Regions from separate parts of the Homo sapiens genome. Here region 1 is linked to region 2. The links come from fine-mapping of genetic effects on gene expression. A gene starts in region 2. The other region holds a variant in brackets. All regions are shown on one strand. Distances are from middle to middle.

Evidence for each region. PIP is the estimated chance that this variant, and not a neighbour inherited with it, causes the effect.
Region 1: its variant is fine-mapped to the expression of CRISPLD2 in whole blood (INTERVAL, PIP 0.98).

The regions. Positions count from the first base shown.
Region 1 is chr16:84,903,149-84,911,148 of GRCh38, reverse strand. CRISPLD2 (cysteine rich secretory protein LCCL domain containing 2) reads right to left here. Exons shown (of 15, transcript NM_031476.4): 15 at 1,641-4,561. The coding sequence ends at 4,507. Among named protein-coding and RNA genes, the nearest start is that of LINC02176, 21 kb to the left of the region's middle. RefSeq lists a silencer at 879-994. The variant C/T (reference allele first, on the strand shown) is at 3,691.
Region 2 is chr16:84,815,010-84,823,009 of GRCh38, reverse strand. CRISPLD2 (cysteine rich secretory protein LCCL domain containing 2) reads right to left here and starts at 3,025. Exons shown (of 15, transcript NM_031476.4): 1 at 2,877-3,025. RefSeq lists a silencer at 3,063-3,252.

The DNA of each region.
Region 1 (8,000 bases), 88 kb before region 2:
TTGTATTTGTAGTAGAGATGGGGTTTCACCATATTGGCCAGGCTGGTCTCGAACGCCTGACCTCAAGCAATTCACCCACCTCGGCCTCCCAAAGTGCTGAGATTACAGACACGAGCCACTGTGCCCGGCCCACAGGGCTTTGAAATGATTCCAGACACCTCCACAGGTTGCTACGTGGGTGACGCGTTTTGCTGCGCTAAGAACTTGGTGTGCCCCTTCTTCCCTGGAGAATGTGGCCTCACCCCTTATCGGACCCCGTCTGCGAGCTCCTGACCCTCACGACTGGACTTCCATACACATGCAAACCTGCCAGTGGGACGGACCCTTTGGGAGCTCTGGCTGTGGCCGGCTGCACCCTCGGCATCTTCTCCCAAAGCTGGGAGCTCCAGCTGTGACAGGTCACCCCGCCAGCCTTGGAGCTACTCTCAGAAGCCTCTGGCCAGCGCTGGAACTGCCTTCTAGGGACCTTACAGCGCTTCCAAGAACGGCTGGTAGAAGGTGCACCTCAAACTGAGGCCTGCTTCCATCCTAAGTGAGCAAGTAGGCCTTGATCATTCTGGAACTGACCCACTGTGGGGTTAATGGGCTTCGTCTGTCGAGTGTATTCTCTGTGAGGTTTGGTCTCATTCTCTCCCTGTTTAAGCACTGGGAACCTAAGGAAAAAACATCTTTGTGTAGCAATAAACTGTGTGATTTGTGAAATCGTACTTTGATCATTTCCTTATTGTAACCACACAAAACGATCCCTAACCCCCAATGTATTTCTTTCGTGTGTGTGTGTGTGTGTGTGTGTGTGTGTGTCTCGCTCTGTCACTCAGGCTGGAGTGCAGTGGTGTCATCTTGGCTCTCTGCAACCTCTGCCTCCCAGGGTCAAGCAATTCTCCTGCCTCAGCCTCCCAAGTAGCTGGGACTACATGCATGCGCCACCATGCCCGGCAAATTTTTGTATTTTTTTTGTAGAGATAAGGTTTCCCCATGTTGCCCAGACTGCTCTTGAACTCTTGGACTCAAGTGATCCTCCTGCCTCAGCTTCCCAAAGTGCTGGGATTACAGGCATGAGCCAGCCTGTGTATTTCAAGGTAGGGCCTTTAAGGAGGTAATTCAGGTTAAATGGGTCCTAAGGGTGGGGCCCAGACCCAATATGACCGGTGTCCTTATAAGAGAGAGAGAGAGACACCAGGAGTGTACATGCCCAGAGGAAAGGCCATGTGAGGACACGGCCAGGGGCAGCCACCTGCAAACCAAAGAGAGGCCGCAGAGGAAACCAACGCTGCTGGCACCCTGATCTTAGACTTCCAGCCTCCAGAACTGTGAGGAAGATATCTCTGTGGGTTAAGTCACCCAGTCTATGGTATTTTGTTAGGGCAGCCGGAGCTTAGACAGAATGGCCTTGAGCCCACCACCACTCAGAGTGTGATCTGGGGACTGGCAGCATTCGCATCACCAGGATCTTGGGAGAAATTCACAGTCCCTGGCCCCAACCCAGCCTTGCTGAGCCCGAAATTGCATTTTGGCAAGCTCCTCCCTCCTTCCCGCGGATGGGGTGGAGGTCTCCACCAGGCCCTGGCTGTCAGCATCTCTGTGTATATGAGACATCCTAGCAGAAGCAGCCAACACAAAACAGTCCAGAGCCTGAAAGATGGTTTTCAATGTTTTATTTCACAAATTGTTCAGATTTGTTCATAAAAGATATGTTACAGGAACATTTTAGAAATCAAACCAGTTCTACTGAAACAATTGCAACAACGTGGCCCCTGTTCATGCAAAGCACAAAAAACATTTACAATAAAACTTTGTACACAGGAAGTAGCAAAATACATCATTTTTCATAGAAAAAAGCACACACATAAACTGCGGGCTGAGTGAGCCTACAGACAATATGAGAAACCAGCACACGCTTTGGAATACGGTAGGGCAAAACTCCTAAGGAAGCCGAAAATGTTCATCCTGTGGGCAGGAGAGCCAGGAACGCCGTTGGCTTGGTACAAGATCTTTTTAAACACAGGGTAAGTGTTGGTAGCACGAGGGGCCTCTATTCCACACACAGGAGAGGTGGTGCTAGGGACAGGGCTTATCATTTATAGTCTTGTTTCCATTTTCTGAAGACAAATATTCCAGTTTCAAAATGTTTGTGGGGATGATAAAGACAGCCAGGTCCATGGCCGGGCGCAGTGGCTCATGCCTGTAATCCCAGCACTTCGGGAGGCCAAGGTGGGTGGATCACCTGAGGTAAGGAGTTCGAGACCAGCCTGGCCAACATAATGAAACCCCATCTCTACTAAAAATACAAAAATTAGCCGGGCATGGTAGCTCACGCCTGTAGTCCCAGGTACTTGGGAGGCTGATGCATGAGAATTGCTTGAACCCGGGAGGCGGCAGTTGCAATGAGCAGAGATCACGCCACTGCACTCTACCTTGGGCAACAGAGTGAAACTTGGTCTCGGGAAAAAAAAAAAAAAAAAAAAAAAGACAGCCAGGTCCTGCTCTGGGCAAGGACTTTCTATCCTGCTAGGAAGGCCCAGTGAAGGAGGCATTAAGGAACCCGGGGACTTTATTTTTAAATGATGGGGTCAACTCACACTGGAAGTTTCAAGTCTCCCTTGAGTGGGATGCTTTGGAAGCGAGCCCACTGGGATCGTCCTGGACCCTTCACTAATTCTGCAAACCCCACAGGGCGATCTAATTTATCTTGCAGACACAGACACAGCCACAAAAGTCCAGCAGCAGAGCACCCAGCACCCAGAAGTTTCCCAGATGTTTGGTGGTAACTGGACTCACGACCTGACAGGCTGACCGAATTCTTCCTCTCCGACATTTGGGGCTGAGGAGTCAGTACCTATGAATTACGACTAGACTACAATGCACAAAGCACGTAGTCCTGTGAATTTTAGCTCAGTCAAGCTAAGAGTTGAACTGCTTTTTACCAACTCCTTAAAGGGGTGGGTTTTTGTTTTGTTTTAAACCTATTTACCTTCAGATTCTGCATTTATTAGAAAGGCAATCAAAGAAAGAAGGCATCACCTAGGTGCCCAGGTAGAATTTCTTGTCCAGTCTACAGTATCTTAGTTTTTGACTTTCTGCTAGTTCTTTCACCTAAGAAATATTTTGAATCAAATTTGAAACTAGCATTCACCAAAGTGATCTATTGGCTGGCCCGGTGGTAGAGAGTGGAATTTTCACCTTCTGCAAAAAAATGCTATTTACAAAAGGGTACTTCATTTCACTGTGGGCTTTTGGTCTGGGCTCATGAAGCACTTTTATAGAGTGATGGCAGCCAGGGTGTACTACACTCCTTGGCGCCTCGGGAACGTTTGGCAAGAGTCGTTTCACGAAAACAGGAAAAGAGATCCTTCTAGTGTATTCCCATCTCTCGCTGTCATGAGGCCACAGACGGTTTCATAACCACAAACTGAGCTGCTAACCTCGGTGAGGAATGTACCAAAGACTCCATTCCTCCCACGGCTGAAAAAATAGGTCATCGGGTGCGTGGGGAATCTGCACATTTAATTGTCATTTTTTAAAAGCAGCAAAGAGCAGGCCTTCTTTGGTTGTTCTCAGACATCTCGTCTCAGTGGAACCTTACGAGACCAGGAGTTAAGACTTGGGCTTCAAACAGGTTCGCTTGCAAAGAAAAGTCCTGGGTGTGAACCAGGACACGTAAACCAGTCCGAGGCAGGGTGGGAGCCACAA[C/T]GGGTAGGGGGTAAAGAAAGGGTCCCGATCCTTAGTCCTCAATGGGACCAAAGGTCACGGCAGAAAACAGGTGGGCCATGAAGACGAAGGGCCTGACAAAGACAAGATACATCTCTGAAGTGACTGCTGAACTCTACATAAACCAGCACTGCTGTGTATAGAGCCATCCTGAATGCGGCCATTGAAGGGGGCCTGTGGCGGGCCGCCAGCAAGGACACGTGCCAGGGCGGAGCCGGGGTCTCTCATACCCGCAGCCCTCTTACTCTAGCCCATTTGTCTGTCTGACCAGCAAACATTAAAACCATTTTCCTCTATTGGTAGGGACGGACTGTGTTTTTTATTTTTAAATAACTACCTTCTACTTCATTCCTGAAACTCATTGGCGCTTGCTCAAAAGGCCTCTTCCGACGCCGTGAATGCTTCACAATTGTGAGCTTCAAATGGTTTGTTCTTTTGGCAGGGAGGTTGAAATCAACTTCCTCCACCAACAGAAGAACACATAGCAAGGAACATTTTGGGCAACTGTCCCCTTTAAGAGACAGCTCAGATCTCTAAAGGAGAGAGGACGTCCAGATGGAGACCCCCAGGCCCCAGCAGGATCAGGCACCAGGGAGTCCGGCTGAGCACCTTGGGATGCTGTTGCTTCAGTGAGGGGATGAGATGTCACCTCACCCACAGGCCACAAAGTGATGGACACTGAACATCAGTCAAAGGAAGTTTCCTGACTCTCCATATACCCCGCAATGACAAAATAAAAATAAAAGCAAAACCCCGAAGCCCTCCTGAAGACGCCCCTTCTCCCCTGGTGCTGGAAATTCACTGCCTGACAGCAAAGATCCGGAAGGCCTTTCCATCCCGAGGAGTCCCCAGGCTGAAAAAAAGAAGAAAGAGGGCCCGTTACTGAGAGATCTGGAGGGCCTCCTGCAGGGACTCTGGGTGGGCAGGGAGACCTGGGTGCCTCCTGCTTGCTCCCGTAGTGGAAGAGCCATGGCCAAGGGACACTTCCTTGAAGCCGCCAGACACAGAGCCTGCCTTGAGTTGAGAACAGGTGGCAAATCCCATTTTCTCTGCACATGAGCATCCATCTGATTCTAGGTCAAGGCTGTTAAGTTATTTCCTTTTAACTCAGGGATCTGCTGGACCCAGTCTGTCTGGATTGGACTCACCCTCCGAGAATTCTGCTTGGTTTCACTACCACCTGTCAACCCGAACAGTGGTGTCTTGGGAGAGATGAACAGGTGCTATCTCAGCACTACTGCATATGCCAGGTGCTTCACCGCCTTCCACCTTCCTCCTGAGGGAGCTGTTATCGCTCGTTCACAGGGGAGGAAACGGAGACACCAGGAAATAAAGAGATTTACCCAGGGTCCCATGGCTAGTAAAAACTGCCCTCTCACAAGAGGAGTTAAATCCTTCAGCTAATCAAAGATGGTTTTTAAAAAAGAGCTTTAGGCCAGGCGCGGTGGCTCATGCCTGTAACCTCAGCACTTTGGGAGTGAGGCGGGTGGACCACCTGAGGTCAGGAGTTCGAGACCAGCCTGGCCAACATGGTGAAACCCCATCTCTACGAAAAATACAAAAATTAGCCGGATGTGGTGGCAGGCGCCTGTAATCCCAGCTACTCGGGAGGCTGAGGCAGAAGAATCACTTGAACCTGGGAGGCGGAGGATGCAGTGAGCCAAGATCAAGGCATTGCACTCCAGCCTGGGGGACAAGAGTAAGACTTTGTCTCCAAAAAAAAAAAAAAAAAAGAGCTTTATTGGTCAGGCACGGTGGCTCACACCTCACACCTGGAATCCCAGCACTTTGGGAGGCCAAGGCAGGTGGATCACTTGAGGTCTGGAATTCGAGACCAGTCTGGCCAACATGGTGAAACCCTGCCTCTACAAACAATTAGCCAGGCATGATGGTGTGCACCTGTAATCCCAGCTAGTTGAAGGTTGAGGCAGGAGAATCACTTGAACGTGGGAGGTGGAGTGTGCAGTGAGCCAAGATTCTGCCACTGCACTCCAGCCTGGGCAAGAGAGTGAGACTCTGTTTCAAAAAACAAAAAAAAAACCAAACCAACTTTATTAAGTTTAACATACCGTATAAACTCAACCTTTCTAAGTGTACAATTCAATGGTTTTTAGAGATTTTATAGAGTTGTGCAGTCATCTCCACAATCCAGTGTTAGACAATTTTTAAAAATTGTTTTAGACACAAGGTCTGTCACCAAGGCCAGAGTGCAGTGGCATGATCGTGGCTTACTTCAGCCTTGACCTCCTGAGTGCAAGCGATCCTCCCTCCTCAGCCTCCTGAGCAGCATGTCACCAAGCCTGATTGATATATTTTATTTTTTGTACAGATGGAGTCTCACTATGTTGCCCAGGCTGGTCTCAAACTCCTGGGCCCAAGTGATCCTCCTGCCTCAGCCTCCCAAAGTGCTGGGATTATGGGTGTGAGCCACCGTGCCTGGCCTAATGGTGTCTTTTAAGGCATAAAAGTTTTAAACTTTGATAGAATACAATTTATCAATTTGTTTTCATTTATAGATTGTGCTTTTGGCGTCATATCTAGCAAACCATCCAAGGTCATGAAGGATTTATACTTGTTTTCTCAGACATCTGTAATTTTTAGCTCTTACATTTCAGCCTTGGATCCATTTTGAGTTAATTTTTATATATAGTGTGAGGCAAAGGTCCAACATCACAGTTTTACTTGTAAATATCTAATTGCCCTTGCATCATTTGTTGAGAAATTATTCTCTGCCCACTGAATGGTCCTGGCACCGATGTCAAAATCAATTGACTGGAAGTGTGATGATTTATTTTATGGACTTCCAATCATTTTTTTTTTTAATTTTTTTTTTAAATTTTTTTTTTTACCTTTTTTTGAGACCGAGTCTCGCTCTGTTGCCCAGGCTGGAGTACAGTGGTGCAATCTTGGCTCACTGCAACCTCTGCTTCCCAGGTTCAAGTGATTCTCTGGCCTCAGCCTCCCAAGTAGCTGGGATTACAGGTGCACACCACCACGCGGGGCTAATTTTTGTATTTTTAGCAGAGATGGGGTTTTGCCATGTTGGCCAGGCTGCTCTGGAACTCCTGACTTCGTGATCCTCCCCTCCTTGGCCTCCCAAAGTGCTGGGATTTCAGGCGTAAGCCACCGTACCAGGCCCAATCACGTTCTCTTAATCTCTGTGTCTGTCCTGATGTCAGCACCACCATCTTGATCACTGTCGCTGTATAGGATGTTTCAGAATTGGGAAGCCTAAGTGCCCCCTCCCGCTTTGCTCCTCTTGCTGTGGGCACAGCCTTCTAGAACACCAGGGACGCCTGGGAGCCTACCAAGGGCCACCACGGCTGTCTCATTCTCTAGATCCTCCCTGATTTTCTGCCCCAGATGATAACTGCACCTTTGGACCAACTGGCCTTCCTGTGTCTTGGCCACCAGGTTTGATACTGTTCCTGACAATGGCCAGAGGTGTGTGGTTTTCCTCGCTCTGCTTCAAATCAAGAAAGCCGCTGGATGGCACAGCCCCACCCCAGTAGAACTTCCAGCCACAGGAGCTGGTGGGGTGAACAGGAGCGGTCCCAGGCTCAGACACCACAGATCCCTCTGTTCTTATCTGAGGTCCACACTTTTTTGAACAAACACCTCCCTGTTCGTTGTATGACTCTGTGGTGTATTTCTGGAGTCCTGAAACAGCTGTTTTTGAACACTGCTTTTGGGAATAAGATTTCCCATGCATCCTGCTTTGGCATTCTGCAAATCTCACCTCTGGAGCATGTCTTCCAGACGCGAGTCTCCATCCCTACACTAACGTTTAGTAACTGTGTGACAAAGTCACTAAGTCTCTTTGGGCTTTTTTTTTTTTTTTTAAATTTTAAGACAGAGTCTCGCCCTGTTGCCCAGGCTGGAGTGCAACGGTGTGATCTCGGCTCATTGCAACCGCCGCCTCCCAGGTTCAAGCGATTCTCCTGCCTCAGCCTCTCAACTAGCTGGAATTACAGGCATGCGCCACCACACCCAGCTAATTTTTGTATTTTTTGTAGAGATGGGGTGTCACCATATTGGCCAGGCTGGTCTCTTGGCCGGGCTGGTCTCAAACGCCTGAGCTCATGATCCGCCTGCCTCGGCCTCCCAAAGTGCTGGGATTACAGGCTTCTAAGGATACTTTCCGGAATGTTCTGTGACAGTGCCGATGTTGGGGGTACCTGGGTTCTTGGGGGAGGTCCAGGAAGGGGCCAGGCTGGAGAGGAGACCCGGAAGGTGGGAGGAGGGGAGCATTAAATTGACGGGAGGCCATTGTTTTGGACTGGGCTAGGCCC
Region 2 (8,000 bases):
AATGGGCCTGGGGTTTCCTTACGAGATGATGAAACGCTCTGGAATTAGTGGTGGTGGCTGCACAATACTTCCAATGTACTAAACGCCACTGAATTGTACACTTCAAAATGGGTTAAATGGTAAATTTTATGTTTATGTGTATTTTTACCACAATACATCTTTTCAGGAAAAAGAAAAACAGAACATGGCCCATCCTATTAACCACCACCCAGATCTACCTGTCCCTTGCCTGTCCCAGAACTCAGCGTGCTCTATTTAAGACTTTACAACGTGCTTTAGGTCCCTGTCCCTGGAAGGTCTGAGCATCTGTTCCACTCAATGAACTGAAGACGAAGTGAAATATGCCCAGATTGAATTTTCCTTTCCTGACAAGCCGTCAGCCCGTTTGAGTGATCCTGGGTTTGCACATCTGGGACTGATCAAAAACCAGTGCGTTTGCAAAAGAAGAAAAAAGAAAAAGAAAGAAAAAGCCTCCTGAGTCTGGCGCAGGCAGACATGCAGACACCTCCCACACACAGCAAATGACGCTGGTGACAGAGGAAAGAAAAGTTCCAGTTCCCACAGGCCAAAGAGGTCAGTGCCCTGCCTCCAAAAACTTTCTGACCTCCAAAGACGTCAGAGGGTCCTGCCTCCAAAAACTTTCAAATGCAACTTACAAAGGGCCACATACTTAATTTGTGGTCTTTTGAGGGATGAAGTGCAGAGGTTTTAAGAGACCTCGCAGTCTTCTTCCCTAGCTCAGGCCTTCCCAGTCAAACCAACTCTCCTCTCCAGGACAGAGGCAGGACTCAGAACCAGCACTGATTTGGGTCCTGGGACGGGGCTCTCAGTACCTGTCAGCAATGTTGAGCCCAAGCCCAGGGTCAGTTGATCCCCTCCCAGCCTCACCCCAACAGGGACCAGGGACCCAGATCCCTGCCAACGTTAAAAAAACTCCCACATGGCACAGAAAGCCTCAACTAGCAGCAAGCTCTGCTGGGACAGTCATGTGGCTGGTCATTAGATGGGCACCTTCCCCCAGAATCTGGGGCAGGGCCCAGCCTGGACGGCAGCTCTACCCCGCCCTGGCTGTGTCATGTTGGGCACACACCTTAATAATTCTGAGCCTCAACTAACTCCTTGTAAAAAGTGCCCAGCTAATAGAGCAGGCAGTGAGCTCATCCGTGGAAACCCTGGGCATGTCTGGTCTGTACTAAGCATCATGTAAATGTCAGCTGCTTGTATTATTACAAATGGCATTATTACTATTCCTACTCTCACATCTTAAGAAACTCTGAAAAAATCAAAATCACCCTCTTGGTTTCTCCTCCCTGGGTACATTGTCCAGTGGTTTTAACTGGAGCCCCTGTAAGACAAAACATCACCTGTGTGAAGGTCAGGTTCATGGGTGGAGTTGGCAGTGGGCAGGGAAGTGTCTTAAAGAAAGCAGGGTCAAGAGTGCAGATAGGACCCACCTGGGGGTGACAGCATTCCATACCAGCTGGGGGATCTTAGGCAAGCACTTCACCTTGCTGAGCCTCAGTTTCCTCAGCTGTGAAGTGGGCATCAAGAGGCCTACTCCCCGGGGTGTTGCAGCGATGACAATACAGGTAAACTGCGTGGCACAGACCGCGTGCCTGCCGCACAGGCAACACAGTCACACACCCACCCCTTCTCCTGAGTGGGAACAGCCAGATCAGGGGCAGAAGCAGAAAATCAGGTGCATACAACCCAAGGAGCCCTGGGACAGCCGACAGTCACAACTCATGGCCTCAGTCTACTGGAAAGGACCACGCCCCGGTCCTGTTCTGCAGGCTCTCCTCACTGTCAGACATCAGACCCTGGATGGGGAAAGCAGGCTCACCCCATTCTACCAGGGCAAGAGGTCCAAAGGCCCAAAGGGGAAACTCACAACCCCACTCTCGGTTGCAAGGCAAGCTAGGCATTTGCACGGGATGCTTCTCTCAGCCAGGGCAGCAACTCACATTTTGGCTGAGAGACGCCCAATTCAAGTTGGACTGCGATGAGCAGGCATCAGCGAAGTCCTCCCTGGCTTGTCCACCAGCCCAGCCTTAGCAAGGGAGGCTCTGGGTCTGCAGCACATGAGGGACTAGCCCTGGCTCTGTCCACGTGGGACGACCGATCTCCCCCACACTCCAGAGTGAGCCCTCCGCTTCCAGGGTAACTCTCCCCACGCAGGAGTTATGCAGGTGCCCGCTCTGGCTAAAGAAACCCAGAAACGTGTTCCCCCAGACTGCAGAACCCTGACATGGCCCCAAGTCTCTACACATCCATTTGAAGCTCTGGAGACAGACAGAGCTGGGTTCCAGCCCTGGCTCTGCCCGGACAACTTACTTCACCTCTCTGACCCTCAGCATCTTCATCTGAAATGTGGGAAGAAGGCTACCTTGCAAATGAAATCACAGAGGGGCGTGGCCCTCTAAACTGCAGCTGAATGCACATGCCACTAGATCACCCTGGTCCTCCAGACATGAGTAGGACACATTCTAATGCCTGCCATATCCATGCCATCAGCTTTCCAGTTATTGACACCCACTACGAACACAGGAATGCAACAAATGCTAGTGAACTGCACGAGGAAGGCAAGAGAGTAAACAGCCTCTAAGGAGCAGGATTCTGCGCTCAGATCGGCGTTGAATCCTGGGTCCTTGGAGTCCTGGCTGCGAGGTCCTGGACAAATGAGTTGTCCTCGCTGAGCCTCAGTTTCTCCATCTGCAAAAGGGCATGTCGCAAAGCTGTGTTCCGCTATGCAAGCAGAGCACTCGGTGTGGTGCCAGCACACAGTCAGCCCTGCGAGGTGGCATCTGTCCTAGTTATTCCAGCTTCTCGGGGGGGTAACAGTTTGCAAAAGGGAGAAGCATGGAAATCACACTTACCTCCGCAGGGCTCCAATCACCAGCTCGCTGGCGTCTCCCGCGTCCAGCAGACGCGGTAGCAGCGGCGACAGCGCGGGCACAGCAGGCACAGCGGGCACAGCGAGCAGACAGCTCAATAGGAGCAGCCGGAGACGCCCTGGGATGCGAGTGGGTGCCGGGGCTCAGCGTACCGCCTCTTGTAGGCTCCCCGGAGCCCGGAGGCCACGCCCCCAGATCGCTGGCGGCGCTGGTAGGACCGAGCATCACCGGCCCCGCCCCCGGCCCCGCCCCGCAGGCTCAGCGGGCTGAAGGAGGCGGGGGGCAGCTGAGGCGCGGGCGCCGGGTGGGCGAGGAAGGCGGGGCCGCTGGCCTCCAGGGCCGGCTAGGGACAAGGAGACGCTCAGCTCCCTCGCCACTGGCCACACAAGCATAGTTTTCATTGAGCGCTTACTATGCGCCTGGCGCGGTGCCAAGCGCTTCCCACAAGGGGCTTGCAAATTTACCAAACCCCAGCTCTCTGCAGCTCAACTGGAAAATAGGAATAAGGAGGCGACCTCCCAGGATTTTAGCAAATGAAATCCGCAAGGGCTGGGCGCTGTGAACTGTGGCGCGGTGCAGAGTACACAGTTACTGAGGTGACTCCCACCCTCTACACGTGCTCAGAAAACTTAGGCCCCCTCTTCCCAATTTGCAGACGAAGAAAGGGAGACTTGTTTCCGGATGGGGCCGCTAGCGCGGGGATCCAGGCTCCGCACTTTACCTTCAACGACCCTAGGACGCGTTCCCAGGAATCCAGGGAGGTGGAAATCACCTCATTTCACAGATCCAGTAGCTGAGGCTTGGAGAAGAGCGTGCCCCAAGTCCCGTAGCTAGGAGCAGTGCAGCATGTTCATATCTCTTTTGCCCGGAGGCATTTAGCATTTTTAACCTGTGCAGGTACATACGGAAATCAATTTAGAGCCAGACGAAATCACCTTTGAAACAGGTAAATCCACGTTCCTTAAGAGCTAAGGGACTGCCCCGTGCTCCCGCCTCAGTCACAAAATGTGGACGGGTATGCAGGCACTGCGCGGTAAGGTGCTGGGGCCCAAGGGCAGGAGGGGGCCTGTCCGCACTGCTCATCTCCGCACCAAGACACCGGAATTAGCTCCTCCAGCATTAACTCATTCCCCAAATACCCATCGAGTCGCTCTGTGCCGGGCCCTGTGCTATACAGCAGGCACAAACAAGACACCTCCGGGATCTCAGAGTCTGGGGCCCCCACGAGCTAGGGCACGTGGGAGAAACAAGGATGGGGAATGGGTGGAACAAGGACTATGGAAGGCTGCCTGCGTGACGTGGACTCAAACAGGGAAGGCTTGCCTAAGATTTTGGTGCGGCTCAAATGCAGATACAGAATAATGCAGACTGGCCGGGCGCGGTGGCTCACACCTGTAATCCCAGCACTGTGGGAGTTTGAGGCGGGCGGATCACCTGAGATCAGGAGTTCGAAACCATCCCGGCCAACATGGTGACACTGTCTCTACTAAAAATACAAAAATTAGCCGGGCATGGTGGTGCATGCCTGTAGTCCCAGCTACTTGGGAGGCTGAGGCAGGAGAATCGCTCGAACCTGAGAGGCAGAGGTTGCAGTGAGCTGAGATGGCGCCATTGCACTCTAGCCTAGGAGACAAGAACAAAACTCCATCTCAAAAAGATAATAATAATGCAGATGTTTTCTGTTATCTTTTTTTCCTCTTTTTGTTTTACTTTTCTCAGTCTTTGAAGCATCATTCTTCAGAGGCACTCAACTGGCATGCAGTCATCCAATAATTAAGCACCTACTATGTGCTGGGCTCTGTTTCAAGCACTGGAGGGCTCAGTAGTGAATAAGACTGTTCCAGAACAACAGTCCTTGGATTGACAAAAGACAAATCCAAGGGGAGAAGAGATCTGTGTTAGCAGATGCCTTTGGAGGCCTGGCACGATGGCTCAGGCCTGTAATCCCAGCACTTTGGGAGGCCCAGGCAGGTGGCTTGAGTTCAGGACCAGCCTGCAACATGATGAAATCCAGTTGCTACAAAAAGTAGCCAGCATGGTGGCATATGCCTGTGGTTCCAGCCACTCAGGAGGCTGAGGTGGGAGGATTGCCTGAGCCTGGGAGGTGGAGGTTGCAGTGAGCTGAAATCGAGCCACTGCATCCCAGCCTGGGTGACAGAGCAAGACCCTATTTCAAAACAAAACCAACCAACCAAACAAACAAACAACAACAAAACAGATGCCTCTGAGTACCTGACCCCAAAGCATTATACTGCCAAATCCTGCCACCCCCAACAACCCTCCAGGCTGGTCCTGTTATTAGCCTCATTTTTTCAATGATGGAACTGAGCACAGAGAGTGTAAGTCACTTCCCTGAGGCCACACAGCCTCTGAATAGAAGAGCCAGGATTTGAATTCACACTCTCACCCACGTGGCTGCCATTGCCTGTGACCATGAAACCTTGGGTGCAGGGGAATGGAATGAACTGGGTCCCTACTCCATCCCCACTCCAGCAAAGAGGAAGGAAAGCTACACGGAATCAGCCTCTACATAGGCCCAGCAGGTGGAACGGGGGTTGGCAGTTGTCAATAGTGAAATGTTTGCCACTTTGCTAATCCAACCCTCATCTCCTTACAGATCCTTTGTATGGCAACCCTGTAGGCTCCTCACCGGCCCAAGTTGGCTTTGGGGAGACCCAGCCCAGCCCAGACGCTCCAAGGACCCCATTGGCAGAGCTGCAACCAGAGACCACTGCTCTGCAAGCCACGATTGCTGTCCGGGCAGTCTCACCCACGGGGCAGACTGAATCCTTAGCTTGCTGGTTTGTGTCATCATCCGGCATCAGGCTCAGTTCAAATCCCAGCTCCTCCACTTCCAAGTTGTTGGCCTTGAGCAAGTCACTTAATGTCGCTGCGTTCCATGCCCCATCTGTGAAATGAATGTGGTAATAATGGCATCTCTGTCTCTCTCTGTGGGCACAAATGGTTAATAGATGGGAAGTAATACGTGGCCTGACACACAGAAAGTGTTAGTTAATACCGTTATTATTAGAGCCAGTAAAGCAAAGAGAGAGAGAGGAGTTTAGTGGTGATCAACTTTTCCATCATGTTGCAATCTCAGAATCTAATTTCCAAAAAATAACATTTGAATTTGAAAAAAAAAAAATGGTGTTTCATGGGCAAGGGGGACCCCTGGGAAGTCCCAGATGGGAGAGCACCAACTTGTACCAAGGAAAGGGGCAAGATGGCCAGTCCCGTCCCAAGTGCCCCCTGGGAAGGGACTGGTCACTGATACCCTTGGACATCCCAGGAAAGGCTCCTATTTGCTACCCAGGCAGGGAGTTAAGTCATGGACAGTTTGAGACAAAGGAAAAAAGTCATCCTTCTGGTCACAATGAAGCCCAACCTGGAAAAACGAACAGGAAAGCCTGGTGGGGCCACCCTGGAGAGCCCAGCCCTCTGCCCACTCTCTCTTGGGACCAAGATGGGCCGACAGAAGGACCGCATGCATGTCTGCAGAACGGTGGCTGGGGCCGGCGGTCATAAATGTTTAATTACGTGATGTAAAGATCAAGGTCGTTCTTTCCTCTCGATGTGATTGCTGTAGGGCTCCTGTCCTCACACCAATTTCTTATTCATCATTTATTTTTATTGGAGGCTCTATGAACTGGACATCAAGAGCAAAGGCCGGGGAGTCCCAGCTTTTCATTTGTTCCTGCCACACCCATTCAGCAGCTGCAGAATGTCACCAGCCCTCAATTTGGCATCAAAGACCACTAACAAGCCTGGGCAACATGGCAAAACCCCGTCTCTACAAAAAATAGAAAAATCAGCCAGGCATGGTGGCGCGTGCCTGTCGTCCCAGCTACTCGGCAGGCTGAGGTGGGAGGACGGCTTGAGCTCAGGAGGTCAAGGCTGCAGTGAGCTGTGATTGCACCACTGCACTCTGTACTCCAGCCTGGGCAACAAAGCCAGACCCTGTCTCACAGGAAAAACAAAACAAACAAACAAACAAAAACCCACTAACAATTTGAGGCGAGGAGACATAGGGGTGCCATTTTGTGATGTGTGATGTGGTGCCATTTTTCTAACTCTTTTCCAGAAGACTTGGAAAAATGGTGCCACCTCTGTATTAACAGGTGCCAATCATGATCTTCCAAGGCTCTCCATGGGACCCACTTGTCTGCCTTGTTGGAGAGGAGGGGGCAAGGGTGACACCTTGTACATCTTACACCGGCAGGCCACTCTCTGGGGGCAGTGGAGACCCTACAGTGGGGAGCTCTGGGGGCGAGGTCTTAATCAATTGGAGTTGCAAGTAACAGAAATCCACTCAAGTTAGCTGAAGCAGAGAAGGGAACTGCTTGGGAGGATACTGAGTTATTTGGGAACCCAAGGCAAGTAAGACTCTCAGACAACTAGAGTGAATCCTGGAAAGGCACCAGGCCCTCTGGCAGTGCTTTCCGTCTATTTCCTCCTTCTCTGGACATGATTCCCGTCTCCCTCTGCAGCCAGGCCTCGCCTATTCCCTGTGGACATGGCCATCCCGTCAGCTTGGGGGGTCACCTCTCCTCTGTCCCAGAGCCCAGCTCAGGCTGTGCCTCACCATCTCCCACTTCTACTTCCTAGAGGGAGAATCGAATTGTCTGTTGGGAGCAGACGTCCACCTGCAGCTCAACTGAGTGACACCAAGGGAAGTTATCGGGCTGCACAAGCATGATGAAATAGTGCTGTGGGCTGGTGGGGTTGATCACAGCAGAGTCTGTGCAGTGTCTGTAGACACATCCAGAAAAAAGCCCCAAATTTAGTGGGACAACAGCTTTGGGTAAATAATCTACATCTAGGACTGAAGCCGACTGTCCTCACAGATCCCAGCCATCTCTGTGAAGGCCAACCTGACTTCCAACAGCCACACCTGTGTCTTTGCTGGAGGGCTGTCCCTGAGCTATCAGAACCCACACAGCACATGAGCATGGTGGCCCATGAGTGCCTAGGATTTAATATCCCCTGGGACAATGGCTAATAACAGCAAATGGGGATGGGGATATAAATACCCCAGATTTCTCGTCCTTGGCTGGGATGATTCAGAGCTGTTTCCCGGAGTTTTCCAGAGGGATTTTCCAATTGGCC